2 separate regions of the Homo sapiens genome follow, and region 2 is linked to region 1. The links come from fine-mapping of genetic effects on gene expression. A gene starts in region 1. The other region holds a variant in brackets. All regions are shown on one strand. Distances are between the middles of the regions.

Region 1 (16,099 bases):
GCATGTTTCCTATAGAAATGGGTCAGGACAGGTGGAATCGTTGGTAGCCGTGTCTGACCTAACACTATACTAAGACCAGCCTCCAGCCCCAGCCCCTCACCAACGCTAAGCATGAAACCAATTTTCCGTCTACCTAGGAGCATGTGTTTGATATCACTGCACACCCAGGGCACAGAGCTTCGGCATTACAATTCTTGGAGCGTGTCTGTCTCCTCGTGGGTCCTGTCCAGACCTCCAGTCACTCACAGAGACCCTCACATGACCAGCACCCAGGGTCCGACTCCCCCAGCCAAGCCCAGCGCTGACCACAACCTGCAGCCAGCGGCCCCCCCAGCCCGTCCACCAGCCCCCCCACCCTGCCCGTCCACCGGCCTCCCCAGCCTGTCCATCAGCCTCCCCGGCCTGTCCACCAGCCCCCCCACCACCCTGCCCGTCCACCAGCCCCCCTCCCGGGGCAGCACTCAGTTGCGTTCCTTTCGAATCCATCGTTTACACCTCTGTGTGTTCCTAATGCGCAAGTCAGCTTTACCTCTGCTGCTCTCACTGGCAAGGCAGGCTGCTGGGCAGCTTCCAGCAGGCGAGCCTCCTTGTGCCATCTTGTCTCAGGCCTGCAAACACTAGGGGCCCCCTAGCTGTGTGGCTCCTCTCCCGCCAGGCAGAGGCGGCTCCAGGGCACACACCCACGGTGCTGGGGGAGGGCCCCACAGGCAGTGATGAGCCTCTCACAGGCCCCAGCGAGGTCGCCGCTTCTGTGCTTCCCACGGGGTCCCCACTCATGCCCTGCATACAGGAGGTGCTGGATCCGTGTGGATCTGGATCCCCTGAGAGTGGCTGGGGGATGAGGGTCCCTGTGTGGAAGCTCCACAAAGCCCCACCTGCCTCCACGCAGGAGCTCAGCCTTGCACAGGAGACTACCCTAACCTAACCCCAACCCTAACTCAGTCAGTCCCGCCGGTGGGGTCTGGGCCGATGCCTGGGCTGGTCAAAGGTCAGGCCCTCACGTGGACCAGGTGACGTGCTTTTGCATGAACCTGTTGACGTTCCTGCTGGACTTTGAAAGGGACCAGGGAAGGGAAAGTGAGGGGAGGCAGCCTGGGTCTGTTCCAGGTGGGGCAGCGGGTAAGGCCCAGCAGGAGCCCTGGCAGGACACGCCTTTCAGCCGAGAGAACTCCACCTTCGAAGGCGGCTGGGGCAAGGGTTCGTGGCCAGGCTGCCCTGCCTCTCGGGTGCCTGCACCCCTGCTAGGAAAAGTCCCTAGGTAGGGCGGCAACTCCAGCCCTGCCTCTCCCAGCTCCCAGTGCAGCCCACACGCCGGAGTGCAGATGACCTGCAGGGAACTCCCATGAGGGAACTCTGTAAAGCGACCTTCAGACGTGCTATTTATAGATGTCTATAGATTTATAGATGTGTGTTTCTCCAAACAAATAAACCACCAGAAAGTGTCACAGCAGGACACGTCACCAACCCCGGGGACCCCATGTTACCAGGGGTCCTCCTGGAGCCTGGAGTCTGGGCCTGCTGAGGACCTGGCTTGCAGACGGGCTCCGGCCTTCTCGTCCCATTGCCCCAAGCGCTCCAACCCCCTGTGAACATGCCTCTAGTCATCCCTGGGCCCTGCACAGCCACAGGCAGCCACCCGGTCATTCCCATACTCTCACCATGGTCCTGCCTCCACGTGGAAGACCCTGCCAGCCGCAGAGTGCAGGTGTGGGGACACTGTCACTGCTGGGAGGCACGTCACCAACCCCGAGGTGCTGCTGAGGCTCAGGGATGGTCCCACATTGGCGCAGGCTGCGGGTGCCGTGTCCTGAGGTCTGGGTTCCCCACTCCAGGCAGCCGCTATGCTCAGTACAAGTCCAGTCCCTTCTGTTGGAAACCCCACCCCACCCTGTCAGGGCTGAGTGCAAGGGGAGGGAACCCACACCTGAGACCTTTTGTGGCCCCTCACTAACACCCCCTTTCCTGCTGTGACCCCTCAGGGCTGCTCAGATGGGCTTGGAGACAGGCTCGGGCCCCATCTCCCATCATACGTCCAGCATTCTAGATTAGCTGGAAGTCCGACGGGGTCTCCCTGGGTTAAAATCAAGGGGTGGGTCAGGGTGGTCCCTTCTGGAGGCTCCAGGCGGAATCTGTCCCTCTCCGTCTCCAGCGTCCAGAGGCATCCGCATCCCTCGGCTCATGGCCCCTCTGCCATCTCCCCACCACTGCCCCCCAGCTGCTTCCCTCATCTCCCTGACTCCCCCTCCTCTCTCCCTCTCCTGGAGACCCTGTGATGGCATCAAGGGCCCCCCTGGGTGACCCAGGACACATGCCCCAGCTCAGCACCCGAGGCTTCATCCCATCTGCATAGTCTCTTTGCCATGTCAGGTTCTGGGATGAGGACGTGACATCTTTGGGGACTGGTAGCCGACCACAGAACCCCCACCCCCAGTGCGGTGGGAGACCCAGGCCACCTGCAGACCCCTGCATGGAGGTGAGGTTCACACAAGGAGACCCCAGGGGGCCTGGGTCCGGCTCCCTCACCCCACGCTCCACGATGCCAGCTCAGCCACCCACCTTGGAACCGTGCAGATGGACAGCAGGGAGGGTCGGGGCTGCTGGGGGCTCCCCCACTGCTCTCCGCACCACCCCGCCGACCGTGTCCGGGAGGGGATGCCCTGCTGCTCTCCCCAGGCTGCTCTGGGGAGTCCTGCCCTCACCTGGAGCCTGGAGGCCATCTGAGTCTGTTTCACAAATGCTTCCAGGGACTGCCCCTGCCATGTGTTAGGGGTGGGAATTCTGGGCACACAGCCAAAGGTCACAGATCCCCAGAGAGCCCCGACAGCGCTGCGTCCACCCCACCTGCCCACCCAGGTGCTGGCTCTGCCACCCGTCTGTGTCCTGAGTCAGCCCTGACTCGGCAGAGAGCTGCACCCTGAGCCAGACCTCAGCAGCTGGGTCCTGGAGGCCCCCAAGGGCCAGCTGCACGCACCTGGCTTCATGCCAAGCTCCTCCCGCCTGGCAGTGGCTGCATCTGCCTCCCCTCCACCCTGAGTGTCCCAAGTCTGCCCGCTGTGCATTCCATGGGGCCAGCAGCTCGGTGGAGCCTCTGCTCTCGGGGGCTACAGCTGCTCCTAGATGCCTCTGCCACCGAGGGTGGACCCTGCAGTGCTGGCTCCTAGCCTCCCTGCCGATTGCTTCCTGAAGACCTGGGGCCCTGGGCTGCAGTGGTTGGGGAGAGGGGGGTGGGAGTGAGAAGCTGGCACTGTCCGTCTTTCTGGCCTCATCCTCTCCATGGTCTCAGCCCCTGGCGGCCTGGACTGCACCGTTCCGGAGATGCTGCCTCCCCACCAAGTCCCTTTAGCCCAACTGTGGTGGCGGCCGCTGCTTCTCACACGCGGGTCCTCTCACTGCCTCTCCCCGGTCCTCCCTTCCTCCCAGCACCTTCACCAGCTCCCCACTGAGTGCCCTCCAATGTTGGCGACCCTGACCCTTGTCCAGCCAGGGGTGAAGGGCGGCAAGGGATGGGCTGGAGGGTACTAGGAGCAGGTGGCGGTGCCCTTCCTGTCGGTCCACACCCGGCAAGTGGCGGGAAAGGTGTGGAATGAGTCAGCCGTGGAGGGGAGCCCTGGGCCTGGAAGACCCCTGTCTTTGGCTTGAGAATGACTTTGAAGGGCTCAGGGGGTAGGGAGCTGGGGGGAGACCGGGAGGAGAGCGGCAGGTCTGGCTCTACCCCGAGGCTTCAGGCTGCGGACCATGCGTGGCCCCAGCTCTGTCTGGGCAGCAGGTGTCAGCGACTTTGGGTTGCTGTGGGAATTTGCTCCGTTTATCAGAAGAAAACGCACCCTGGCAACACAGGCCCCTCTCAGGTCACCAGGCACATCTGGTCACATCTGAGTCTCAGATAAACAACCAATGATGTCCTGGTGAAAGCTTGTCCCGTGGGACACTCGGGACACACTTATATTAAAACACGATTAACGATCTCAAACTCAGATGTTACTGGGTATCCTGCGTTTTTGTTGGCAGCTCTGCCACTCTGCCCGTCTGCCTGAGTCCTCTCCTGCCATCCTCCTGACCAGAGGCGTGGGCTTGAGTTGAATGCCACGCAGTGGCTAAAAATCAGAGAGAGGGCAGGCGGCAGGGCGCGGCCCCAGGGAAAGTGGCCAGGTGGGCGGTGACTGGCCGGGCAGCTCCGTGTGTGGCACAGGGAGACCTGGCACAGGGAGACCAGGTACAGGGAGACGAGGCGCACGGAGCCTCAAAACTTCTAGAGTGGGCCGGGCGCGGTGGCGCATGCCTGCAATCCCAGCACTTTGGGAGGCTGAGGCAGGTGGATCACCTGAGGTCGGGAGTTTGAGACCAGTCTGAACAACGTGGTGAAACCCCGTCTCTACTAAAAATACAAAAAAATTAGCCGGGCGTGGTGGTGCACGCCTGTAATCCCAGTTACTTGGGAGGCTGAGGCAGGAGAATCGCTTGAACCAGGGAGGTGGAGGTTGTGGTGAGCCAAGATCTGGCCACTACATTCCAGCCTGGGCAACAAGAGCGAAACTCCGTCTCAAACCAAACAAAACAAAAAACAAACTTCTAGAGCGGGAAAAGATGGAGGCGGCAATCAGATTTCTCTCAAACCACGAACACAGGGGTCGGTATCTGAGGCGCCGGCACCAGACACGGCAGGGTCTGAGTGCTCCCTGACAAGCGATGATGCGCAGGCTTGGAGCCATGCCAGTGACACGCCTAGGAAAGTTCACGCACCGCCCAGCACGCCTGCGCATGCCTGTTCCCGCTCCCTGGTGCCCCGGGCGCCTGCCTGTCCCGGCTCCCATGGGTGCTGGGTGTGTGGAAGCTCCGGCCCCCTCGGGCTGGGTTCATTGGGGTCCTCCTGTGTGGTCAGTGGACTCTGTACCCCCACAGCACCTGAGGGGTGGCTGACACTGCTTTCCCAGCTGCTGCAGGGGCTCAGGGAACACAGGTGACCCCACGTCTCTACCGAGAATGAGCACACCAACACCTCTCAGAAGACAGCTGCAGCCTGCAGAGGCCATGGACCCCACCCAGGCCCACGGTGTGGACGGCTCTGCCCTGGTCTCTGCTGAGCCAGGCCCAGAGGGGACCCCAGGTGAGCAGCAAAGCCCCCCAGGCCTGGGGCTAGACCGGGCTAACCCTTCCTGCTCAGCACCTGTTCACCTGTCCCCTCTGCTGGTGGCCTCCTGTCCTCCCGCTCTGGGCTCAGCAGCAGCCCCGTGGAGAGGCCCTGCCACCACCCCCGCCCTGCTGGAGACAGGCCTCCTACGCGGGCTCCTGCAGCCGGTCGCCCTGGGCCTCCTAGAAGCCGGGGATCCTCTGCTGACCACCGGCAGAAAACGTGCTTCTCAAGCTGCAGGTGATTCACCAGTAGTGGGCAAGGAACTGAATGTGGTGATTACTGCGGAGTCAGCAAAACCCGCGTGAGAACGGGCAGCTGAGGGCCTGCCGGGTGAGGGAAGCCTCACGGTTCCTGTTTCATGAGTTTGCTGTGAGTGCACACGAGGCTGTGGCTGTGGAGTGTGCAACAGTCCACGCGTGCCTGCGTGTGCTCATGTGCGTGTGTCCACCAGCTTGTGTGCACGCATATGAGCGAGTGCGTTTTGCTCCCAGCTTGGTCGCAGCGACGGCGCAGGGAACCCCGGGTGAGGCCGAGGACCGGGAAGGGAGGAGGGGGCTCCGACCCATCGGACTTAGGGGAGCCCCGGGTCCGAGACGCCGCCTCTGTCCCTTCAAGAGTCGAGCCTGGCGCACAGGGCAGGGACGCGGGTCCCCACACCGGCCGGCAGCTCGTTCCCGCCCATACTCGGGTACGCCCGCTGCGACCCCGCCCGCCTGGCCTGCGACGCACGCTCAGGGCCAGCGGGGGGTGACGGTCCCAGAGGCAGAGGCGCCGCAGCCCCAGAGTCCCCATCCCTGCGCGGACCGGCAACCCCAGTGCACCAAGAGGCCCTAACACCGAGCCCCCAGCACCGAGTCCCCAGCACCGGGCCCTCAGCACCGAGTCCCCAGCACCGAGTCCCCAGCACCGAGTCCCCAGCACCGAGCCCGCCCCTCTGGTTCCCCCGCCCGCCCCTCTCCGCGCCTCACCGGGTCCGCTCCTGGACGCGCTCCTCTGGGATGCAGCTTCTCCGCGCCCCGGAGCCCCAGGAAAATGAAAGACACGAGAGGGAGGGGCCAGGGAGGAGGCGGCGGACCCGCGCGGGACCCACCTCCCAGATGAGGAAGGAGCTGGGTTTACGGGAAGCCTCCAAGTTTCGGGAACCACCCGCGTTCACAACAAGCGTGACGGTGAATTTATTATTTTCACGGGAGGCACCGCACCCGCGGTTCACGCTAAAGGAAGCAGGAAAGCCGCCGGGAGCATTTTTCCAGGAGAGTTCGTGCCTGGGCGGGTCCAGCTCGCGTGCGGCGCGCGTTCCCCGCGGGGCTGTTTGGCTCCGCTCCTGGAGGCCTCGAGTCTGTGCACGGGGCGAGCTGGGCGGGCCGAGTGGGCCGCGGGGAGGGAGGGCGGGGGGCGGCCCCCAGATGCCTGGGAGTGCGCGGGCAGAGTGAGCTGGACCCCCGGAGGGTCAGAGGCCCTTTCATAAAAGCGCGCAGAGCAGAGGAGTGATGTCCCCCAGCTCCCCCGCAGAGGGTCCTGCACCTGCGGCCTGGGCCTTCAGGCGTCCTGCGGCCCCTGCGGAGGTGCTGGCCTGGCCAGCCCGGGAGGAGGGGCCCAGCCTGTTGGGGCAGGAGATTGGGGTGCGGGTAGAAGGCTCCAAGACGCATCCGGGCCGGGAACCCACAGACATCCCAGGTGGGCAGGAGGTGGCTCGAGGAGGCCTGGAGGACCCGGCGCCTGGCGGGGTGGCAGGCGGGCCACGTCCTCCACTAGAACCCGAGGGGGCACGCGGGCAGGTGCGGGCGGGGTCAAGGATGACCAGGTATCTTCGGGACACTAGGAGGAGGCCCCACAGGCTGCAGTCACGTGAGTGGGCAAGTCCCCACCGGGCAGATGATGGGGGACACTGGGGCGTGGGCAATGCCCCCAGTTTCATGGAAGAGAGGAAGAAGCAGAACCAAACTCCGGGAAACCCTCAAATGTGGGGAATGGACGGAGCAGGGCCAGACTGGACGCTGAACCTTGGAGCCTGCAGCTCAGCCATCAGACCCAGGGTCCAGAGGTGGGTGGCACAGAACAAAGTCCCCCGGGATGTTCCAAAAGAGAAACTGTCGCCAAATTGGCAGGTGAAACACAGCCTGTCATCCTCCCAGCAAGACGGCACCATGGCCGGGGCACAGAGGTCAGATTCCCCAGCCCCCGCCCTCGGGGAAACCCCAGCCACCCTGGCTGCCAGTGAGATGCTGGAGAGGGGGCTGAAATCCCACCTGCCCACGTCCTCTGCACAGAGGGGCTTGTCCCCGAGGCCACATCCCCCAGCAGCCACAGCTTCCTTCTCCTTTTTTCCTGCCTACTAGATCTCTCAACTCAGAGGGGGCTGCAGTTCCTGGGGGCAGGGGGGTCCGGCTGCTTAGGCAGGAGCACCTGCACCGTGAGGCTCTGGAGGGCAGCTGAAGGCTGGCAGGCTTTTGTCCCGTGAGGGGACACCACTGGGGGTTGGAGGAAAACGCATATCCTGATAAAGCATTTCATGTTGTGAAAGTGAAACTAGTTTGTTTATTTTGGAAGTAATACAGGCACAGAAACAAAATAGAATGAAACCAACTGTTGCCTTTTCCTCCCCACCCTGGCTTCAATTCCCAGGTTGAGTTATGGACACTGCCTTACCTATCCTTCTAGAAGTTTTCCTGGTCCATACAAACAGCACAGCCATCCACTCACGTTTATTTCTTTCTTTTTTTTGAGACGGAGTCTCTGTTGCCCAGGCTGGAGTGCAGTGCTGCAGTCTCGATCACTGCAACCTCTGCCTCCCAGGTTCAACTGATTCTCCCACCTCAGCCTTCTGAGTAGTTGGGATTGCAGGCATGTATCACCACGCCCAGCTAATTTTTGTAGTTTTAGTAGAAATAGGATTTCATCATGTTGGCCAAGCTGGTCTCGAACTCCTGACCTCAGGTGGTCCGCCTGCCTTGGCCTCCCAAAGTGCTGGGGTTACAGGTGTGAGCCACCACATCTGGGCAGTATCTTTCCATTTCTTTTTTTTGTTTTGAGACGGAGTCTCGCTCTGTCGCCCAGGCTGGAGTGCAGTGGCGCAATCTCGGCTCACTGCAAGCTCTGCCTCCTGGGTTCACACCATTCTCCTGCCTCAGCCTCCTGAGTAGCTGGGACTACAGGCGCCCGCCACCACGCCCAGCTAATTTTTCTGTATTTTTAGTAGAGACGGGGTTTCACCGTGTTAGCCAGGATGGTCTGGATCTCCTGACCTTGTGATCCGCCCATCTTGGCCTCCCAAAGTGCTGGATTACAGGCGTGAGCCACTGCACCCGGCCGTATCTTTCCATTTCTATACAATGCTGGGATCAGGCATCTTAGAGCGGATGTGTGGATTCATTCACCCTCAGCCTGTCCTTGAATCACAGCCTCTGCTGTGCCAGGTGACATGTGGAGTTTCATTTCCTTTCTGTTCGAGGAATTTGTAGATTTCAGTTATGATTTTCTGTTTAACTCTCCAAATTATTCGGCAGCATATTCTTAAAATCCCCAAGGTCCTGGAGCATTTGCTTTTCTTTTTTTTGGAGACAGAGTCTTGCTCTGTCGCCCAGGCTGGAGTGCAGTGGTGCGATTTCGGCTCACTGCAACCTCCGCCTCCCTAGTTCAAGCGATTCTCCTACCTCAGCCTCCTGAGTAGCTGGAACTACAGGCACGTGCCGCCACGCCCAGCTTTTATTTATTTATTTATTTTATTTTTGGTAGAGACGGGTTTCACTATGTTAGCCAGGCTTTTTTTTTCTTGAACTCCTGAGCTCAGGCAATCCACCCGCCTCGGCCTCCCAAAGTGCTGGGATTACAGGCGTGAGCCACTGTGCTGGCGGCATTTGCTTTTCTTTGTAACTTGATTCTCTGGGTTCCCTTGCCTTTCATCCTTGCCCACCCACGTGACTGCAGCCTGTGGGGCTTCCTCCTAATGTCCCGAAGATAACTCGTCATCCTTGACCCCGCCGCCACCTCGGGTTCTAGTGGAGGATGTGGCCCGCCTGCCACCCCCACAGGCACCGGGTCCTCCAGGCCTCCTTGACCCACTTCCAACCCACCTGGGATGTCTGCGCGTTACCAGCCCAGATGCCTCTTGGAGCCTTCCACCTGCACCCCATCTCCTGTCCCAACAGGCTGGGCCCCTCCTCCCGGGCTGGCCAAGCCAGTACCTCCGCAGGGGCCGCAGGTGCAGCACCCTCTGTGGGGGAGCTAGGGGGATCGCTCCTCTGCTCTGCGCACTTTTATGAAAGGGCCTCTGACCCTCCCACTGTCCTGCTCACTCTGCCCGCGCACCCCCGGCCACCTGGGGGCCGCCCCCCAAAGCCCTCGGCCCGTGGACAGACTCGCAGCCTCCTGGGAGCCGAGCCAACCGGCCCCACAGATTTGTGCATGACTCAGTTGTACCCACTGCTCACTGGCTGGAAGGGTCTCACGGGTCCTTCCAACATGTAATATTCTCTGACTGTTGGGAGCAAGGGTCTCTGCAGGTGTCCCTCCTGTCAAGGTGTCAGTGGGGTAGGTTAGGTCTTTTATATACTTGTCAATTTTTTTTTTTTAAGACGGAGTCTCGCTCTGTCGCCCAGGCTGGAGTGCAGTGGCACGATCTCAGCTCACTGCAAGCTCCGCCTCTCGGGTTCACGCCATTCTCCTGCCTCAGCCTCCCCAGCAGCTGGGACTACAGGCGCCCGCCACCACGCCCAGCTAATTTTTTGTATTTTTATATACTTGTCAATTTGTATGGGCTTGAGCTATCAGTAATTAAGAGAGATAGGTTGGAATGGCCTCCTATGGTGGGGGCTTAGCAGCCTCTTCTTGTGGTTCTAGGAATTTTTAATCATATATTTGGAGGCTTTTTTTTTTTAAGAGATGGGGTCTCCTGTAGTTGACCAGGCTGGCTTGCAGTGGCTGTTCACTGGCAGGATCGTAGCTCAATGTACCCTGACCTTCTGGGCTCAAGCGATCCTCCAGCCTCAGCTTTCTGAGTAGCTGGCACCACAGGCAGGCACCACAGATAAAAAGTCTAAAATGTTTGCTTCAGTCTTTGTCGTTTTGTTGCTCTTGTTCTTGTCTTGTGCTAACCTAATTCTAATTTATCTATTTTATAATATTCGGAAGTTTTAAAATATGAGGCTAATTTTAAATTCTTACCCAGCATGTGTTTCTGCTTTTGGTGGAATCCACAACCCAGCTTGTTATTTTCCACCTGAAAAGGCTGTGCTCCTCGAACATCCAGTTATGTTGCCCTGAGCCCCTTCACTTGCCAATCTTCTTGGTATTTCTTTTGGGATTTCACTGTCTTTATAGCTTCACTTTATTTTAATTCTATTTATTTATTTATTTGGGGGGGATGGAGTCTCACTATGTTGCCCAGGCTGGAGTGCAATGGCACGATCTCACCTCACGCAACCTCCACCACCCGGGTTCAAGTAATTCTCCTGCCTCAATCTCCCTAGTAGCTGAGATTAGAGGCGTGCACCTGGCTAATTTTTGTATTTTTAGTAGAGACGGGGTTTTGCCGTGTTGGCCAGGCTGGTCTCTAACTCCTGACCTCATAATCTACCCACCTTGGCCTCCCAAAGTGCTGGGATTACAGGCGTGAGCCACCGTGCCCAGCTGTTATAGCTTAATTTTAGAAAGAATGGCATTTTTAGGGCTGGGTGCGATGGCTCATGCCTGTAATCCTAGCACTCTGGGAGGCTGAAGTGAGACAATCTCTTGAGGCCAGGAATTTGAGACCAGCTTGGACAACACAGTGAGACCCATCTTCACAAAAATAAAATAATGAGCCGGGCGTGGTGGCCAGTGCCTGTAGCCCCAGCTACTTGGGAGGCTGAGGTAGGAGGATCTCTTGAGCCTGGGAGGTCGAGGCTGCATTGAACCGAGATCAGGCCACTGCACTGTAGCCTGAGCAACAGAGCGAGACCCTGCCTCAAAGAGAGAGAGAGAGAGAGAGAAAGAGAGAAAGAGAAAATACTTTTAATAGTAATCCTTCCTAGCCAATGAGATAGGAATGCTGGGTGGTCATAGGAGAAATGAGAAATATCAAACAGTAATCTTGCAGAAAAGCAAGAAAGCAGCTGTTAGAATGAGCCACAGAAAGCAACTGTTAGAATGAGCCACGGAAAGCAGCTGTTAGAATGAGCCATGGAAAGCAGCTGTTAGAATGAGCCACGGAAAGCAGCTGTTAGAATGAGCCACAAAGGCAGGGATGAGCCCGGACTGATGAGACCCTCGACCCCACAAGCAGGAGAGGCTACGTTGGAGGAGGCTGGCCGGATCCACCGTGGCACTAGGCTTGACCTGTGCCCACCCCAGACCTAATTGCACACTGACTGCCATTCACAATCACGTACACACCAGCGTCACGGCAGATCCAACCATGCCCATATTTAGTATAAAAATATCTGGCACCCCAATTCTAAGAAATCGTCACCTTTTTCCTAGAAAATCTAATGATTATTCCACCCTCTAACTAGGAAAGCCCATAAAATAGAAACTCAGGCCTCGTTGTGTGTGACTCACTCTCGGAGCACGCCCGTGCCTCTCCTGTGCGCAGGCATTCACTTCACAATAAAAGCTTCTTGCCTTTTGTCTCATTCCTACTCATCCCGAATTCTTCCTCATGATGGTGTCAAGAACCTGGACACCGGCTGGCACTGGGGCTGGCATCTCGCCGGCATCTGCAGACCCTTCTCAGTCCTCCGGCCACAGAGCTGCTGCTTTCCGTCTGACTTAAGCGTCATGGCCGTGCCTGTCCCGGCCAGGAATCCTGTCAATGGCCGTGCCCAGCCCTGCTTGCTCTGCGGAGCCCTGGACTCAGGGGAGCCTCCAATGTGCCCCCAGGACGGTGCTCCGTGCAGGAGGAGTGGTCTGACCACATTCTACTCTCTCCCCTTGGCTGCCTGCCCCTTGATTCCTGGAATTCCCAGAGAATCAGGACGCTGTTCCCGGGAAGACTCTAACCACCAGCAAATGCCCAGGTCCGAGGGTGCCCAAGGTCGCAGGTCCTGGATCTGAAGCTTCCTGGAGATGCCTCCTCCAGCCTCATGGGGAGAGGAGGGAGGGTTCCCAAAGACACCCAAGAGTGAGGATCTGGTTCTGGGCTGCTGGAGAGGAGACGCCTCTGGGAGACCCCCCCAGAGTCCCTGTGCCCCCAAAAGCCCTGCCCCCAACCCCTCCCCCAGTGCTTCTCTGTGCCCTCTCACCAGTGCCTCCCCCAGTGTCCTCTCCCCCCAGTGCCCTCCCCCAGTGCCCTCCCCTGGTATCCTCTCCCCCGTGCCCTCCCCCAGTGCCCTCTACCTTGCCCTCCCCCAAGTGCCCTCCCCTGGTGTCCTCTCCCCCTCTGCCCTCCCCCAGTACCCTCCCCCATGCCCTCCCCCAATGCCCTCTCCCCCAGTGCCCTCCCCCCAGTGCCTTCTTCCCCTGTGCCCTCCCCCCATGTCCTTCCCCCACACCCTCTTCCCCTGTGTCCTCCCTCTGTGCCCTCTTCCCCTGTGCCCTCCCCAGTGCCCTCCCCTGTGTTCTTCCCCAGTGCCCTCTTCCCCATGCCCTCCCCCTGTGCCCTCCCCCCAGTGCCTTCTTCCCCTGTGCCCTCCCCCCATGTCCTTCCCCCACACCCTCTTCCCGTGTCCTCCCTCTGTGCCTCTTCCCCTGTACCCTCCCCCAGTGCCCTCCCCAGCTTCCTCACACCCAGTTCCCCCATGCTGAGAGGCTGTCAGTGATGGAGGTTTGGGGTGGCATTAGACCACCTCCCAGGAAGGGCGAGGAAGCATTTCTGTAACATCAGAATGCGGCAGCAGAACTTCCCTGAGGAGCCGCTGCCCAGAAGAGCTTCCCCCTGACGGTCTTTCTAGGATGAGATTGTCCCGCACCTGCCTCCCCATCTCCTGTCTCGGTTAAATCCCTCTCCGAGGGCATGGGAATGATAGTTGTCTTTGTTCAGCGTATCCGAGATTTTTTTTTTTTTTTTTTGAGACAGAGTCTGGCTCTGTCACCCAGGCTGGAGTGCAGTGGCGTGATCTCGGCTCACTGCAACCTCCACTTCCTGGGTTCACACCATTCTCTTGCCTCAGCCTCCCGAGTCGCTGGAACTACAGGCGCCCGCCACCACGCCCGGCTAATTTTTTGTATTTTTAGTAGAGACGGGGTTTCACCGTGTTAGCCAGGATGGTCTCAATCTCCTGACCTTGTGATCTGCCCGCCTCGGCTTCCCAAAGTGCTGGGATTACAGGCATGAGCCACCACGCCTGGCCAAGAAAAATGGATTCTTATTGCACTGATGCAACCAACTGTATCACCATAAGAGTACTCACAAATAGTTTCCAAATTCTAGAGGAACCAGGGAGAGAAACAAACATGCTCCAAATTTTGTTCACAGGAGAGTACCTTGCTCAATTATTAAAGGCCGTGAACAGTTCAAGTTTCTTTGACTCTGAAAAACAAAACAAGGATCAGCAATATTCTAAAAGGTGCTTTCTGAGGGCCGTCCATTTAGTTCACTTTTTTTTTTGAGATGGAGTCTCGCTCTGTCCCCCAGGCTGGAGTGCAGTGGTGTGACCTCAGCTCACTGCAAGCTCCACCTCCTGGGTTCACACCATTCTCCAGCCTCAGCTTCCTCAGCCTGTAGCTGGGACTACAGGCGCCCGTCACCATGCCCGGCTAATTTTTTGTATTTTCAGTACAGATGGGGTTTCACCGTGTTAGCCAGGATGGTCTCAATCTCCTGACCTCATGATCCACCCACCTTGGCCTCCCAAAGTGCTGGGATTAAAGGCGTGAGCCACCACGCCTGGCCTAGTTAACTCTTGTTTTGCTTGAGATTCATGAACATTTCAGTTCTTTGTGAGTCCTGTATGTTTTTCCTCTATTCAAAAAAAAAAAAAAAAAAAAAGGGCCAGACATGGTGGCTCACACCTGTAATCCCAGCACTTTGGGAGGCTCAGGTGGGCAGATCACTTGAAATCAAGAGTTTGAGACCAGCCTGGCCAACATGGTAAAACACCATCTCTACTAAAAATACAAAAATTAGCCAGGCGTGGTGGTGCACACCTGTAATCCCAGCTACTTGGGAGGCTGAGGCAGGAGAATCACTTGAACCCAGGAGGCTGCAGTGAGCTGTGACTGTGCCACTGCACTCCAGCCTGGGCAACAGGGCGAGACTCTGTCTCAAAAACGTTCCAGGGCCTAATCTTGAGATAGACAGACCAACCCTGGAAACTCAGCGGCAAAATTCCAGAGGTTTCCCCCAGGCAGCAAGTCAGCCACCCAGCCGTTGATCAGATGACCCCAGCCTGCGCTCCAAGTGTACTGGGACCCAAGATAGCCACTGAGGACAGACACACAGACCTTGTACCCAGCACGGCGCCGGCACGCCTCCCACGCCAGCTTCCCCGTGACAAGCCCCTGCCTTCTCCCTAGGAATTTGAAGTGGTTGCTTTGGACGGGAATGCGGCCCCTTGCCCATGACTAGTTTCGGATAATAAAGTCACTTTCTTTCAACCAGGCCTCCCTCTTGATTACTGGACTCTGCAAGTGGTGAGGAACGGAACTTGCGTTCGGTTACAATTTTGGTGGCCCGTGTGGGGAACGTTGTGTGCTTTGGGGGGCCCAAGCCTGCCCATCTGGTTTCTGTTGGGCAGGGCGTAGGTTCACCTGTGAGTTCCAGCTGCTCCTGGCTGCTGCGCCTGTGGCTGGAATGGGAGGAGCTGCCCCGTGGCCGCCGAGATGCTTTCGTCCGGGAATCCTGTCCTTCTCTTCCTGCTGCCTTCAACGCTTTGCTGGTGCAAAGGAAGTGACCTTTGGAGAAGTTAATAAACTTTGGAACTGGGTGCCTTAGTTGGAGTTCACCCAGGGACCCTCTGCCTCTTTGGGGTGTGGCTGAGGCCCTCCTCTGTTTAGACTTGGCTGTGAGTGACACCAGTTGGGCATTTGATACATTTGAATTCGTTTGTGTTTGTGGCACCCTAGGGCCTCTGCTCAGTGCGGGTTCAGTCGCCCGAGGGGCCGTTTGAAACCGAGCCCCTTAAAGGAGGTTTTTTGGACGCAGCTGTTGGTTTGTGCGCATGAGTGTGTGCACCCTGACCTCTCTCTCCTTCCTCCAACGTCCTCCTCCCGTCCGCCACCAAAGCGTTATTCCTCTTGGTCAAAAGCACCCTTAGCTCCCTGTGGCTGCGAACAGCTGACCTTGACAGGTGATCTGCGGAGGTGGGAGGGATTCATCCCACACCGCGCAGGTCTGGGGTGCGGAGGCTTTCCCTGATGGGAGATGATCAAGGGTGAGGGGGTGCTGGCCCCGCACCACGCAGTGGCTGGAGGCTCGCCAGCCTCCCTCCTTCCTTTCTTGTTTCTCCTCCCTGCTGCAAACCTTTCTCCTCCGCTTTCCTTTCTTTTCTATTTTCCTGTTCAATCCAGGGGCCCAGCCCAAAAAGGGAAAAACAGTTTCCAACATCCCGGCCCCTGATTTTGTCGTCCTCTTAGGGACTCCAGCTGGTTACATATTACAGCCCATTGTGCATGTTTTAAGCTGACGGGCAAATGACAGCGAGGAAAATTCAGACCTCCAGTGGTGAACCTGTGCTGTGGTTAAGCAGTGTTCTAAGGTGCTCTCTGGTCCTCTCTTTTCTTTCTTGCTTTAAACCTGCTGTTACTAAGCTGCTGGTGCGAAGACTCGTTATTTACGGTCTAACTAGAATGTAAACGTTGGAAACTCATTTGAAACTAAAGAGAAAGAGGGTAAAACAATTTTTTTTGTTTCGTTTTGTCTTGTTTTATAAAACCAAACTGCCACAGAGATTGCTTTACCCAAATTTTGGTTCAAGTTCTCTCCTTGGATGACCTATCAGGCGACAAGGGTTAGCCAGGTAAGCAGGTTCCAGTCTGTCAGAACAGCCACCTGCAGCCAGCTGGCTCCTATAGGCCCATGAGTTTGTGACACTTTACCATTGCCATGCCAAC
Region 2 (16,099 bases), 71 kb after region 1:
CCATGAACATGAACCGCCCTCCGCCGAAGTCCTCCAGGTAGTTGGAGAGGTACAGCAGCGAGGTGTAGTCGAAGGAGCCGTAGGTCACCTGAGGGCAGAGCCGGGAGGAGGGGGCAGAATGGGCTCTCAGCATGCGACCAGGGCAGGTGCTGCTTCTCTCTCTTATTTTTTGTTTATTTATTTTTTGAGACAGAGTCTTGCTCCATCACCCAGGCTGGAGTGCAGTGATGCGATCTCGGCTCACTGCAATCTCCGCCTCCCAGGTTCAAGCAATTCTCCTGCCTCAGCCTCCCGAGTAGCTGGGGCTACAGGCACCCACCACCACACCCAGCTAATTTTGTATTTTTAGTAGAGACAGGGTTTCACCTTGTTGGTCAGGTTGGTCTCAAACTCTTGATCTCAGGTGATCCACCCACCTTGGCCTCCCAAAGTGCTGGGATTACGGGCATGAGCCACTGAACCCAGCCTCTTTTTTTTTTTAATAGGGTATCGCTTTTTTTACAGACAGCATCACTCAGGCTGTAGTGCAGTCACAGCACTGTCATTGCTTACCATAACCTTGAACTCCTGGCTTTAAACAATCCTCCTGCCTCAGCATCCCGGGTAGCCAGGACCACAGGCGCACGACACTACAACCAGCTAATTTTTTCTTTTCTATTTTTTTTTTTGTAGAGATGGCATCAGTCCACCCACTTTGGCCTCCCGGGTGCTGGGATTAGAGGCATGAGCCACTGTGCCTGGCTGATTTTTGTATTTTTTGTAGAGGTTGGGGCGGGGTGGTGGGGGCAGGGGGGCGGGTCTCGCTATGATGCCCAGGCTGGTCTCAAACTCCTGGCCCCAAGTGATCCTCCCACCTCAGCCTCCCGGGTGCTGGGATTACGCGCGTGAGTCACCAACATCTGTGCTTCTTATTTTCCAGAAGGTAAATTAACAACATGTGTCGGCCCCATTAATGAGGCCATTTGTTCCTTTGCAACTTTAAAAACCCTCTGCAGAGTCTCCAGCCTCATGCATTGTTGCCCAGGATTTCCTGTAAGCTCAGATGTTGGAGCAGCCGTGTTCCAGCAAAGGCTACGGGCAGCAGGCCAGCCAGCAGGGTGTGCATGCTGGGATGGTCCCCCGGTGCCAGCCTCGCTGCCCACACGTGGGAACCAGAGGCAGCGGTGGACGCGCTTTTCTCCTTTCTTCAGAAGTGGAGCAATCCCAAGCTTTTTAAAACTTGTAATAAAATGCAGAACCTAAGATTTTCCAGCTTAACTGTGTCTTCACTGTTTTTAAGCACAGTTCAGTGATGTTAAGCACATTTCCAATGTTGTGCAGCCACCGCACCGTCCTCTCCAGAACATCTCATCCTCCCAGGCCGAAGCTCCGTCCCCAGGAAGCACTGACTCCCCACGCCCCCCAGTCCTGCCCTCTCCATTCCGCTTTCTGTCTCTGTGAACCTGGCGACTCTAGGGTCCCCACGGACGTGGGATCAGGCAGGATCTGTCCCTCCGTGACTGGCTTACTTCACTCAGGGGTCGCAGCACTCAGCTTCCATTCCAGAACCCAGCTGGGGCCACGCCCTGGGGGTGAAAGGTGCAGCTGCCAGGACACCAGCTGCAAAGGGGAGGGCGCATCTCACCCAGCTCAGCTGTCATAAGCACACCCAGACCAGGGAGGGAAAGAGACACTCTGGGGAGGGAAGGGGGATGGAGCCGCACCAGCGCGGAACTGGACACCCACTGTGCGGGCGCTGAGCTAGGTACATCACACACAACAGAGCCTCGTGTGCAGTGGAGAGAGCCCAGGCTTGAAGGCAGACACCGGGCCCTCCCCCTGGGCAAGGTGGCCTCCTCTGAGTCCTCCTGGGAAGGAGAGCAGGATCACGCTGGGGCCCAGCCCCCAGTCCGACCCGCCAATATCCACCTCACATAATCCGCTGTAAGGAAGCCCAGTCTCAGGTGGTGCCCTGGGCGGTGGGTCAAGCTCCCTCCCCCCTGCCCCTCCCAGCTGCCAGGAGGCCCCTTGGGCTCAGCTCCCATGGGCTTTGCCCCCTCCAGGCCTCACAGATGCCCCCCGGAGTCCCCCCTTAAAAGCTTCCCAAACACAAGTCCATGCCAGGCTCTGATTCTGGGGAGACCAGAGTAAGACAGACGTCAAGTGAGCAAAGCCGCGTGCGGACTGCACTGCCTTCTGTAAAAAGGAAACCATACCAGGGTCCATGATCTGACAGCCACAGCTGCCTTATGTTATGCAATGGGAAGAAGGAACAATTGCCAAAACTGTTTTAAATGTGATTCTTTACAACTGACAGAATGCGGTATTCTTATGCATTCGTTTTTATACACACAGAGAAATTCAAGAAGGAACTCTGAGATCTCAGGACTGTGGTTACCTGTAGGTGAGGGGGTTACTGGTTCGCCTTTATTTATATACATATATATATATATGACTTTTAAATCTTGTAGGATGCATTACTTATTCAAATATTCAAATTTTGATGCATGATTTATTCAAAACTAAATTTAAAATAAAGTACACTGGCCAGAAGTCATAGCAAAATAGCTCCCCACAGAACACCACGAAAATCACCCAGGTTTCTAAACAGTTCTGTTTCACTGAAGTAAAGTCTCTGCTAATTAGAAAAACACTGATCTTCAGACGCCACTTTGGTTTCCTGATGAGCAGACAAAATTCGGTCAGGGGCCATGGAAGGAGCCGGGAGCGACCGGACCAGGGCGAATCTGCTGTCTGTGCCGGCGGAAGGCCAGTAAGTGCCGTGCAGTCGTGAAAAAGGAAGTGGTTAAAGTGGTTACGGCAAAGCGGTGGCGCCGGCTGCTCCCGACACTGCAGCCCGAGAGGGAGAGAGGAGGACTGAAGGCAGTCCCAGGCCTTGGGTTCCTTCACTGTTCCTGTTCCCTTGGGTTTACCTTTTTTTTTTTTTTTTTTAGATGGAGTCTTGCTCTGTCACCCAGGCTGGAGTACAGTGGCGCGATCTCGGCTCACTGCAACCTCCACCTCCTGGGTTCATGCCATTCTCCTGCCTCAGCCTCCCGAGTAGCTGGGACTACAGGCGCCCGCCACCACGCCCGGCTAATTTTTTGTATTTTAGTAGAGACAGGGTTTCACTGTGTTAGCCAGGATGGTCTCGATCTCGTGACCTCGTGATCCACCCGCTTCAGCCTCCCAAAGTGCTGGGATTACAGGCGTGAGCCACCACACCCGGCCCTGGGTTTACCATTTTAATGCCAAGTAGCAGAGTGCCAAGATGGCAGATGCTGATTGCAGATTATAACTGCAATCTCTCTCTCCTTCTGATTACAACTGAAACTGCACAGAGTGCACTTTGGGAGGCAGAGGCAGGTGGATCACCTGAGGTCAGGAGTTCGAGACTAGCCTGGCTAACATGGTGAAACCCCGTCTCTACTAAAAATACAAAAATTAGCCGGCCGCAGTGGCACGCACCTGTAATCCCAGCTACTCAGGAGGCTGAGGCAGGAGAATGGCTTGAACCTGGGAGGCAGAGGTTGCAGTGAGCTGAGATCGCGCCACAGCACTCCAGCCTGGGTGGCAGAGCAAGACTCCATCTCAAAAAAAAAAAAAAAAAAAACAAAGACTGCCCTTGAAGAATAATTTAGTAACAAATGTCACACGGCACAGAAAGCTGGTCATCTAACTGCCATTCCTTCCTCTGTCACAGCGGGCATGGTGGGGCAGCAAGAGTCCTAATCTCCCCAGCCATGTGCTTTCTGGCTTTAATCTTCTATTTGAGCTTCAGCTCCAGGGCTCACAGTGCCATTCAACCACTTCCATCCAGGTTGACTGTATGAAGGGAACTCACAGCTTCTACACCATAAAAATCACCCTTAAAGAATTGCTATAATACCATTCTTTGTATTAGCCGTGCTTTACTTTTATCTTCTAAAATCTTTTATTAAGGGCCAGGTGCGGTGGCTCACACCTGTAATCCCAGCACTTTGGGAGGCCGAGGCAGGTGGATTGCTTGAGGTCAGGAGTTTGAGGCCTGCCTGGCCAACATGGTGAAACCCTGTCTCTAATAAAAATACAAAAATTAGCTGGGCGTGGTGGTGCATGCCTGTAGTCCCAGCTACTTGGGAGGCTGGGGCAGGAGAACCGCTTGAACCCAGGAGGCGGAGGTTGTAGTAAGCCAAGATCACACAACTGCACTCCAACCTGGGCAACAGAACAAGACTGTCTCAAAAAAAAAAAGAAAGAAAGAAAGAAAGAAAAGGCTGGGCATGGTAGCTCACGCTTGTAATCCCAGCACTTTGGGAGGCCAAGGTGGGCAGATCACCTGAGGTCAGGAGTTTAAGAGCAGCCTGACCAATACAATGAAACCCCATCTCTACTAAAAATACAAAAATTAGCCGAGCGTGGTGGCATGTGCCTGTAATCCCAGCTACTTGGGAGGCTGAGACAGGAGAATCACTTGAACCCAAGAGGTGGAGGTTGCAGTGAGCTGAAATCGCACCATTGCACTCCAGCCTGGGCATCAAGAGTGAAACTCCATCTTAAAAAAAAAAAAGAAAGAAAAGAAATGGGATGGGTAATGGCTCTCGCCTGTAATCCCAGCACCTTGGGAGGCTGAGGCGGGAGGATTGCTTCAGCCCAGGAGGTCAGGCCAGCCTGGGCAGCATAGTGAAACCCTGTGTCTACAAAAATAGAAAAACGAGCCAGGCGTCGGGGCACGCACCTGTGGTCCCAGCTATAGTCTCAGTCCCAGGCTGAGGCAGCAGGATGGCTTGAGCCTGGGAGGTCAAAGTTGCAGTAAGCCATGACTGCACACCTGCACTCCAGCCTGGGTGACAGAGTGAAGCTGTAACTCAAAAGAAATAAAAGAAAGAAAGATAGAAAGTGGTAAAAGAAGGCTCCCAGAGACAACACAGAGACCTGGGCCACAGAGAGCATGAGTGGCTGAGCAGAGACCATCTGCCGTAAGAGGTTAAGCATCAGTCTGTTAATAAATAACAATGGGGTAACCACAGGCCGTGTGGGCCGGGTTCTCCACTTCTTCTTGTCACCATCAAATGAGAAATTTTATTTCTCCAACTCCATCAGTGAGATTGAGGGTGTGCCCTGAAACCTCAGAGAGGAAGACATCTAAATGCTTACACCCACCGGGCATGGTGGCTCACACCTGTAATCCCAGCACTTTGGGGGGCCAAGGAAGGAGGATTGCCTGAGCTCAGGATTTTGAGACTATCCTGGCCAACATGGTGAAACCTCGTCTCTACTAAAAATACAAAAATTAGCGAGGCCTGGTGGGGCATGCCTGTAGTCCCAGCTACTCGGGAGGCTGAGGCAGGAGAATCGCCTGAACCCGGGAGGCAGAGGTTGCAGTGAGCCGAATCGCGCCACTGCACTCCATCCTGGGCGACAGAGCGAGACTCTGTCTCAACCAATCAATCCTAACACCATGCACACAGCAGGCGGATGCTGCAAAAGACAGCCCTGTGGTAGGTAGCCCCAGGCCACGGGAGAACAGGCCTCACCTTGACCACATGCGCGCTCACCCTGTCCACATGCGCGCTCACCCTGCCCACGTGCGTACTCACCCTGCCCACGTACGCACTCACCCTGCCCACGGGCACGCTCACCTTGTCCACGAGCGCGCTCACCCTGCCCACGTGCGCACTCACCGTGCCCACGGGCACGCTCACCTTGTCCACGGGCACGCTCACCCTGCCCACGGGCGCGCTCACCTTGTCCACGTGCGCATGCCAGTACTCGTCGTGCGCCGTCCGCGCTTCCGTGCTGTTTATGCGGGAGAAGAAGGTGGGCTTGGTCAGATGCAGCGAGGATGCGCTGATGCCAAAAGCCTCAGCAATGGTGAGCTGGACCTTCTGCCGCACCTCCCTGCAGAGGACACAATAGCCGTCAGCGCAGCCCCAGGCGGGAGGGGACGCTCGTGGGTCCCAACCCGTGGGTGGCAGGAAAGGAACCAGCCTTCGTACGGCTCCGGGCCCGCGGGGCGGGGGCTCCCAAGCACACCGGGAACAGATACCGGCTCCGCCTGGGAACGACGCGGCCCACAGCCCACGCACAGAGCAGCCAGAGGCAGGCGCAAGACCACAGCAGCAGGACTGGGGAGGCAGAAGGGGGCCTGCAGGACCAACGCTGGGGAGGCTGGTGTGGAGTCAGGCCCCAGATGCCAGAGCCTCCAGGCTTCACTTGCAGGGCCTGGAGCCCAGCCTCCTATTCAGCAACGAAGAGGCTGCTGTCCCCCAACGTGAGTGTGCGGGGTGTGTGGACGTGGGGAGAGGGGAGTGGGTGTCGAGCCTGCTAAGTGTGGATGGGGTGTCTGTACTGGGGACAAAGGGACTCTCGCTCAGAAGACCCCATGTGCCAGGCCAGAGCGGCTCTGAAATGGATGTCTGGGTGGGCATGGGCCCATGTGGGGGGCTCGAGGGGGGTCACTCATGTGTCCTGGGATGGTTGCGTGACTCTTAGCTCCTTTGCCCTCATCTCAACCTGGGCTCCTCCAGCAGAATTTTTTCTTTTCTTTTCTTTTTTTTTTTTTTTTTTGAGATGAGGCTTGTTCTGTCACCCAGGCTGGAGTGCAGTGGTGCAATCTCAGCTCACTGCAACCTCCACCTCCGGGGTTTAAGCAATTGTCCTGCCTCAGCCTCCGGGGTAGCTGGGATTACAGGCACCCGCCACCGCACCCAACTAATTTTTGTACTTTTAGTAAAGATGGGGTTTCACCATGTTGGCTAGGCTGGTCTCGAACTCCTGACCTCAGGTGATCCACCCGCCTCGCCTCCCAAAGTGCTGGGATTACAGGCATGAGACACCGCACCCAGCCTCATCTGGCAGAATTTTTAAAACTGGGCTGATTTTACACAGCAGAAAACAAGAGGTTCTGACCAGGATGCAGCCACAGGATTCCAGATCTGTTTCACCGACCCGGGCGCATCCTGGCCACGCTGGGCCTGCCCCGGCCTTTGCTCCATGAGAACTCACTTCTGCAGGCCTGGCCCTGGCCCCTGGGCCTCTCCGTGGGGCCTCCCCGGACCGGCCAGCTCTGCCACACCCCTCAGCCCCAGGCCACCCCGCCTGCGAACCCCCACCCGCCTCACTCCTCCTTACCGGTATAACCGGAAGTCCTCCTCTGAGAAGATGTTCTGTATTTTATCCCCGAAGTATCTGTGAAAAAAGGAGTATTCACAAAGGTCACAACACTTCATTAATCTGTTGTTCATCTCCTTTCAGTTCAGCCATTCCTCAAGTCCCTGAAAATCAACTCACACATTCAGAGCAACTCCATTTCCACAATGATAACTGCTATAAAGGAGCCGGGCCGGGCGCAGTGGCTCACGCCTGTAATCCCAGCACTCTGGGAGGCCGAGGCAGGTGGATCACCTGAGGTCAGGAATTCGAGACCATCCTGGCCAACATGGCACAACCCCATCTCTACTAAAAATACAAAAATTAGCTGGGCATGGTGGTGCGTGCCTGTAACCCCAGCTACTCAGGAGGCCGAGGCAGGTGGATCACTTGAGGTCAGGAATTCGAGACCATCCTGGCCAACATGGCACAACCCCATCTCTACTAAAAATACAAAAATTAGCTGGGCGTGGTGGTGCGTGCCTGTAATCCCAGCTACTCAGGAGGCTGAGATGGGAAAATTGCTTGAACCCAGGAGGCAGAGTCAAATGAGTCGAAATTGCGCCACTGCACTCCAGCCTAGGCGACAGAGCAAGATTCCATCTCAAAATAATAATAATAATAATAAAAACAAGGAGCCAGCCGGGAGCAAGACCCAGGGCTAATGCATGAGGCTGACACGGATCCACGCAGGGAGGGTCTCTTTGCTCTCCCGGCCCCTCATGGAGCGTCAAAGGCCCCGTTGGATTCTTGGAAGCTGCTCCTGGGAGCCTCCCATCTCTGCTGCCTCTTGCTCCCATCCCTTCTGTCCCTGGGCCCACAAAAACACCAGATTCCCCTAAAGCTTCATGAACAAGCCCCCTGCCCACAGGCTGTGGAGAGTCCACACCTCCCAGCTCTTGCGTCCCAAAGAACCAGGAAGGACCCGGCCAACATCACAGCCACTGAGGCCCTGAGGCTGCACCGAGCCGGATCCTCCCTCACATGTCCACGTGTCCACATGTCCATGGCTAAGAGGCACGGAGCCGCTCACTCGGCTTTCAGAGCCAGCACTGAGGTCATGCTGCAGCACTCACCTGTACAGGTTCACAAAGTGCTTCCCGACAGACAGGGCCCCTGAGTGCAAGTCCAGAATGGATGCCTGGAAAAGACGTTGTGGAGTAAAGCGTGCAGCCGCAGCAATGGCAATGGCTGTTAAAAGTCATGGATGGTAAATGCGAGTTTCCAAGGTCTGGCCAGCACACACCTCAGGTGTTTTTTTGTTTTTGTTTTTGTTTTTTGTAAAAAGGATCTTATTCTGTTGCCCAGGCTAGGGCGCAGTGGCACAATCTCAGCTCATTGCAGCCTCAATATTCCAGGCTCCAGGCCAAACAATCCTCCCACCCTCTGCCTCCCAAGTAAAGGCGCTCGCCACCACACCTGGCTAATTTTTCTATTTTTTGTAGAGATGTGGTCTCACTATATTACCTAGGCTGGTCTCGAACTCCGGGGCTCAAGTGATCCTCCCACCTCAGCCTCCCAAAGTACTGGGATTACAGGCATTAGCCACTGCACCCAGCCTCAACCCAGGACTTTCTTAAAATCCTCCCAGACCGGCCAGACGTGGTGGCTCACACCTGCAATCCCAGCACTTTGGGAGGCTGAGACAGGTGGATTGCTTGAGGCCAGGAGTTCAAAACCAGCCTGGCTAACATGGTGAAACCCCATGTCTACTAAAAATACAAAATTAGCTGGGCATGGTGGCGAGCTGTAATCCCAGCTGTAGCTGGGACACCTACAGAGATAGCCTCCCAAGGAGCTGTAATCCCAGCTACTTGGGAGGCTGAGGCAGGAGAATCACTTGAATCAGGGAGGCGGAGGTTGCAGCGAGCCGAGATCGTGCCATTGCACTCCAGCCTGGGCTACAAGAGCGAAACTCCATCTCAAAAAAAAAAAAAAATCTTCCTGGACCAAACACTTTTGTTCCCTGTGACCTAAAGAATGGTGGCACGTGTGGGCTATTTTTAGTCTGGAGCCATCTCCGTGCAGCTCCGTGCCAGTCACAGTCATGTGTCCCTGTGGGCAAGTGTTGACTTCTCTCGAGTAAATGCCTCACAGCGGTGCTCCCACCTTGGCCTCCTGGGCGGCTGGCACCACAGTGCGCGCCACGCCAAGCCTGAGTCATCACTTTGTAAGCCACTGCTGAAGTGTTTCCTGCCCGACCACCCACCTCTCAGTCCTTCCCTACGTCCTCAGAGGAAGAGGCTTCCAGCCCACGTTAGTCATCCCACCTGTGACCCCAGAGGAGCCCCACTGCTGCCCCTTCCTCATCGCCACAGCCACTGGCCCTGCGGCACTAACCTAGCTTGGGCCCGCTGAACAGTAACTGAACCCAAAGCAGCGGCCCAGCCAGCTCCATGCAGGACAACTTCCCATGTGAACGTGGAGGAGCTGTGAAACAGAAACCTACTCACTCACAGATCTTTAACAAATAGCCCCCGAACTGAACCAAACCAAACTGAAATAAAGGGAGGAACTTAGGCCGGGCACGGTGGTTCACACCTGTAATCCCAGCACTTTGGGGGGTCAAGGCAGGTGGGTCACCTGAGCTCTGGAGTTCAAGACCAGCCTGGCCAACATGGTGAAACCTCATCTCTATTTAAAATGCAAAAATTAGCCGGGCATCATGGCACATGCCTGTAGTCCCAGCTACTCAGGAGGCTAAGGCAGAAGAATGGCTTGAACCCAGGAGTTGGAGGTTGCAGTGAGTGGAGATCGCCCCATTGCACTCCAGCCTGGGCAACAGAGCGAGACTCTGTCTCAAAAAAAGAAGAAAAAAAGGAACTTAATTTTCAGAACTCAAGAGAAAAGA[G/GT]TTTGCAGAAAAAAGTCACACAGACCATCACAGAAATACTTTGAAATTCTCAAAGAGTCTATAAATTAATTTTCTAGAAGTTTCAAATATGCAGAAAGACTCAAGTCTATTCAGTGATTATAATTCAAAGCGATCACCAAATAAACAGAGAGAAACAGATCTTCAGACAATTCCACACACCGAGCAAGAAAACAACCCTGAGGAAACCGCATGGGAATTGGAGCTAACACCAGCTGCACCAGACTGACTCCCAGCCACTGCCCAACAGGAGGGCGAGGCCACAGCCGGCGGTGGCTCCATGATCCCTGCGGCTGTGGTAACACAAACTGGGGCTTTAAAACAACACAAGTTTATTCTCTCACAGTTCTAGAGCCCAGGAGTCTAAAATCGAGGTGTGGGAGGGGCCCTGCTCCCTCCCAGGGCTCCAGGGGAGGTCCTGCCCGCCTCTTCCATGGCCGCACTGCTCCCATCTCTGCCTCCATCATCACAGGACCTTTTCCTCCTCCCTCTCAAATCTCCCCCTGCCTCTGTCTCCTATAGGCACTTGCCATTGGATTTAGGACCCTAAATCTGGGATGATGTCATCTTGAGATCCTTAAGTTAATTACATCTGCAAAGGTCCCTTTTCCAAATCAGATCATGTCCACGGGCTCCAGGTGAACACATTATCCGAGGCCACTAGCTGACCCCCTGCAGCCTCACATGGGACGACAGCCCCACAGGGCGTCCATGGAGGCGTCCAGCTAGGAAGTTGCAGGATGCGTTGCAGCGTGTCTGTCCCACGGAGGCCCTGCTGTTTCCCGGCAGCTCCACGGGCTCTCCTGTGTCCAGCATGCGCAGCCGTCTCCTCGCTGGGCTCCCACCCCGCTCCCTTGCCGGCTCCCTGCTTCCGACCCCCTCTATCCCCCAGTGTGAACTGGAGCCAGGCAGGCCGTGACATGCCATGAATAGATGGCCACGCACATCTAAGGACACACTCTTCCCAACGAGGGGACGCCGCACGGGTTTCAGTCAGGCGCAGCTGCTGCGGCTGGTGCTGAGAAACACCACGGCAGGCCCCACCCACATTTGGGGGCACGCAGGGAACCCTGCATGTCTGTGCCTTCCCCTTCCCATCCAAGTGAGAGCAAAGTTAACGGGTAAAAAAAGGGGGGCAGGGACTACATTCAACTCACCCCTCCGTCAGATCCTCCCAGGGAGAGCCCCTTTTCAGCTACGCTGCAGGGAGAAAATAATTCAGAATTTCGTTGCTAGAATTGTCTATAATGTATAATCTAGGCAAACGTCAATCAGCAAAATTAATGCAACATTAGTGGGTCCTGCGTGTTTAATGTTTATGATGTAAACAAATGTTTAGACCAAAGGACTCAACTTTCAAAGTTCAGTGCGTAAGCGACAATACTGCCATCGTTGTCTTGTCAATATTTGACTCAGCTTAGAAACGACTGGGCTTCAGCACCTTGGGAGGCCAAGGCGGGTGGATCACGAGGTCAGGAGTTCCAGACCAGCCTGGCCAACATGGTGAAACCTCGTCTCAACTAAAAATACAAAAATTAGCCAGCTGTGATGGCAGGTGCCTGTAATCCCAGCTACTCTGGAGGCTGAGCCAGGAGAATCGCTTGAACCCAGAAGGCAGAGGTTGCAGTGAGCCGAGATCGCGCCACTGCACTCCAGCCTGGACAACAAAGCAAGACTCTGTCAAGAAAGAAAGAAAAAGAGAGAGAGAGAGAGAGAGAGAAAGGGAGGGCTGGGCTTAATCTCTCATCTTCAATATCGAAAGCCACCTGGGCCAAGCTCAGGAGCCTGGGGAGCATCTAGGGGAGGGCCCACTGCTCCCCATCTCTCCTGGAACCCCAGGCAGGTGGGGGAAGCTTTGAGATTCACCAGCTCAGGAGATAGGGGCCCTGACCATGGTGGGAGAAAGACACCCACACGCCAGCTGTGCTGGACCACAGAGGACCACCCTGAGCTGCCACAGGTGCTGGGAGCTGCCTGTGGACACCAAGTGGGGACACGCCGGTGCCTCAGTCAGACAGCAGTAACCCCACTGGAGCTAGGCAGCAGTAACCCTGCGTGGAGCTAGGCAGCATCCTCGGGGGCAGGCTCCCTGGGGAGAATCTCAGGGCAGGGCACGTGGCCCAGGGCTGCACACCATTCCACATGCTTATCGTCTCAACAAGTGGTTGGAAAATCAAAACTTTCTTTTAAGATCTCAGTAAGAAAAGTCCAGCACCAGTAGCCTCTGAGTGGCATCCTGTGCTGCCACAAGTCATAGCCAGGTGGGCTGACGGGCTCCCTGGAGGCAGTTTCAGAGCAGACACTGAGCGGTCATTGAGCAGTGTCCCGGAGGCTCCGTGGGGAGCATGGGGCACTCAGCAGCAGCCCCCAGAGGCGGCCACAACCCCTGCAGAGGAACCTGGGCCTCTGGGTACTCTCCCAGCTACTGCTTCGCTGAGGGCCATGGTCTCCTCTCCTGAAATCGGAAAATCTGAGCTTGGCCCTTGAAAGCACATAATTCTTTTTTTTTTTTTTTTTTTTTTTTTTGAGATGGAGTCTCACTCTGTCACCCAGGCTGGAATGCAATGGCTCAATCTCGGCTCACTGCAATCCCTGCCTCCCAGGTTCAAGCAATTCTCCTGTCTCAGCCTCCTGAGTAGCTGGGATTACAGGAGTGTGCCATCACACTCGGCTAATTTTTCATATTTTAGTAGAGACAGGGGTTTCACCATGTTGCCCAGGCTGGTGTCGATCTCCTGAGCTCAGGCAATCCACCCGCCTTGGCCTCCCCAAGTGCTAGGATTACAGGCATGAGCCACCGCACCCAGCCTGGAAATTCTTATAAAATTATAATAAAATCTTTTTTTTTTTTTTGGAGATAGAATCTCGCTCTGTCGCCCAGGATGGAGTGCAGTGGTGCAGTCTTGGCTCACTGCAACCTCTGCCTCCCGGGTTCCAGCGATTCTCCTGCCTCAGCCTCCTGAGTAGCTGGGACTACAGGCACATGCCACCACACCCAGCTAATTTATTGTATTTTAGTAGAGACAGGGTTTCACCATGTTGCCCAGGCTGGTCTCGAACTCCTGAACTCAGGCAATCTGCCCGCCTCAGCCTCCCCAAGTGCTGGGATTACAGGCGTGAGCCACCACGCCTGGCAATAAAATCCTTAAAACCACTTTATTACTAACAATGCTCTGCTTCCCGCCCTAGCCCCACTCCGCGTGTGTTTGTTTGAATCCCACCGTGCTCAGGGACAGGCGGTTACCTGCGAATCCGCTCCGCTTCCTCCCTGGTGATGACGACATCGGTGACACCTCTGCCGCACTTTCGGGGAGTGCAGCCTGTGAAGGGACAGCCAGGGTGAGACGCAGTTTCCAAGGCCACCGGCGCATGCCCTTCCAGGGAATCAGGGCCAGAACTGGCTAATACGCCCGGTCAAATGTGAATTTCAGACACACACAACCACAGCTCTCCAGCGTGCATGCGCTTTGTGCGGTGCATCTGGAGTTCACGTCTCACTGGGCCACCTTGGCTTCCAGTGGCTCCAACTGGAAATTTAATCCAGAGGCACCTGTTGCTGCCCCAAACCCTGGGAAAGTCACAGAAACCCCAGACACGGCGTCAACAGCATTCCTGAACCATCACTGACTGCAGGTCCAGACACCCACAGGCACCGTCAGAAAACCCTTCTGAGACCACCAGAGCAGAAAACCCTCCTGAGACCGCCAGAGAGGAAAACCCTCCTGAGACCACCAGGGAGGAAAACCCTCCTGAGGCCACCAGAGGGGGGAACCCTCCTGAGACCACCAGAGCAGAAAACCCTCCTGAGACCACCAGAGAGGAAGACCCTCCTGGGACCACTGGCGCAGAAAACCCTCCTGAGACCGCCAGAGAGGAAAACCCTCCTGAGACCACTGGAGCAGAAAACCCTCCTGAGACCACCAGAGTGGAGCTTGTGGGTCTAGTCCCAGTCCTTCCCCAGGGCACAGCGAACTGCTCCGCACATGCCCCTGTCTCTCCCCGTACCTTGGTGACCTGCGGAGGCTGAGAGGGAAGAGGAAGCAGCAGCTCAAATGGGGGTCAGGGTGGTCGGGGCAGGGGCAGGGTCGTTGGGACAGGAGCAACACGGTCGGGGCAGGGGCATGGTTATCGGGGCAGGGGCATGGTTATCGGGGCAGGGGCATGGTTATCGGGGCAGGGGCATGGTTATCGGGGCAGGGGCATGGTTATCGGGGCAGGGGCATGGTTATCGGGGCAGGGGCATGGTTATCGGGGCAGGGGCAAGGTCGTTTGGGGCAGCGGCAGTGTCGTTGGGACAGGATCAGAGTGGACAGGAGTCAGGGTCATTGGGCAGAGGAAAGGTGGACAGGGCAGGGGCAGGGTGTTTGGGGCAGGGGCAGGGTGGTCAGACAGGGTTAGGGTGTTTGGGGCAGGGTGGTCAGGGCAGGGGCAGGGTGGTCGAGGCAGCATCGCACAGATGCACAAGGTACAGCAGAGTGTCGGAGAGGGGCCCAGGGACCCGCCCCTGTGGTTTGGTACCAAGTGCAGCTGGCTTCATGCGCTGGAAAGGCGTCAGGCCATGCCTGATCGATCAGACAGCAGCCCACAAGCACCAGGACATGGGGCAAACCGGGACTCCACAATATGCTTTTCCTCCCTCTCCCTACATCCTGCCTAAAAAGCCAGCCCTGAGCCTGGACGTGGAGCATCCCTCCCGGGACCATGGGAATAAAAGCCTCGCACTCAGTGCTGAGTGCCAGCATCAGGGGCTTGGACCCAGGGATCACAAGGCACCGAGATGACCTTGGTTCCTTTCTCTGGGCCTTGTGCCAGGAGATAAACAGAGCTCCACTTGGCTGAATATCAGGGAAGGGGGGCTGTAGTTACTGTGGTTAAATGATCTAATGGACATAGGTGTTGTATTTCAAAAACAAAAAGTCATTTTATGCTTTTTTATAAGGTTTACCCCACAAAACGCGAGGACACAGGAAAGCGGAAAGCAAACAGCAAATGCAATGAGAGCCACACAGGCCCGTGGCGCAGCCTCTGTACTAGCAAAGAGAATCACTAGAGGGAAGAGAGGGTCCCCCGCGGCACAGGAGCGACTCGGCAGGAAGGGGAAGGGGCAGCAGACAGCAGACAGCATCGCCCCATGACACACGTGGCAACCAAAGCACAGACGCTGCTGGGTCCATGCTCAGTGGAGGTTCTGACGCCCCTTTCCATAGCCGGTGGGTGAAGGAGACAGAAACTGGTGATGAGAATTTGTGCACACGAGCGTGGGTCAGGAGAAATACCCACAACGTTGTGAAAAGGGACCAAAAATCCCACGCATTTCCAAATCTTTTAAATTTCCAAGTAATTCATGAGTTAAAAAACAATAATAATAAAAATTAGAGGCCAGGCGCAGTGGCTCATGCCTGTAACCCCAGGGCCTTAGGAGGCCAAGGCAGGTGGATCACCTGAGGTCAGCAGTTTGAGATCAGCCTGGGCAACATAGGCAAAACACCGTCTCTACTAAAATTACAAAAATTAGCCAGACATGGTGGCAGGTGCCTGTAGTCCCAGCTACTCAGGAGGCTGAGGCAGGAGAATCACTTGAACCCAAGAGGCCTGGCGGAGGTTGCAGTGAGCCGAGATCATGCCACTGCACTCCAGCCTGGGCAACACAGTGAGTGACACTCTGTCCAAAAAAAAAAAAAAGAAGAAAGAAAGAAAAAGAAAATACATCAAACCATTTGTTTTATTGTAAAATATATACAAGATAGAATTTACCATTTTAGCCAAGCTTTTTAAAAAGTGCGCAGTGTGGTGGCATCGGGCACAATAGCATCGTGCAGCCGTCACTAGCACCACCTCCAGAACTTTTCCACCTCCCACAGGTGAAATCCCAAATCTATTAAACATGGACTTCCATCCTCCCTCCCTCATTCCAACTTTTTTCTTTTTTGGCGGGGGGTCAGGATCTCGCTCTGTCACCCAGGCTGGAGTGCGGTGGCACACTCTAGGTTCACTGCAGCCCTGACCTCCTTACCTCCCAACCTCCTGGGTTCAAGTGATTCTTCCACCTCTGCCTCCTGAGCTGGGGTTACAGGCGTGCACCACCACACCTGGCCCATTTTTTATTTTGTAGAGATGGGG

Evidence for each region. PIP is the estimated chance that this variant, and not a neighbour inherited with it, causes the effect.
Region 2: its variant is the best candidate, but not a certain one, in a credible set for the expression of SECTM1 in whole blood (TOPMed, PIP 0.66).

The regions. Positions count from the first base shown.
Region 1 is chr17:82,327,601-82,343,699 of GRCh38, forward strand. It overlaps SECTM1 (secreted and transmembrane 1), which reads right to left and starts at 6,166. Exons shown (of 5, transcript NM_003004.3): 1 at 6,100-6,166. RefSeq lists a silencer at 4,509-4,793 and enhancers at 4,670-5,472, 7,520-7,589.
Region 2 is chr17:82,398,232-82,414,330 of GRCh38, forward strand. OGFOD3 (2-oxoglutarate and iron dependent oxygenase domain containing 3) reads right to left here. Exons shown (of 9, transcript NM_024648.3): 3 at 13,224-13,299; 4 at 11,137-11,179; 5 at 8,187-8,251; 6 at 7,093-7,149; 7 at 5,706-5,859; 8 at 1-88. LOC124904090 (a long non-coding RNA gene) reads left to right here. Exons shown (of 3, transcript XR_007065956.1): 3 at 1-1,242. Among named protein-coding and RNA genes, the nearest start is that of HEXD, 12 kb to the right of the region's middle. RefSeq lists enhancers at 1,167-1,773, 2,504-2,703. The variant G/GT (reference allele first, on the strand shown) is at 9,962.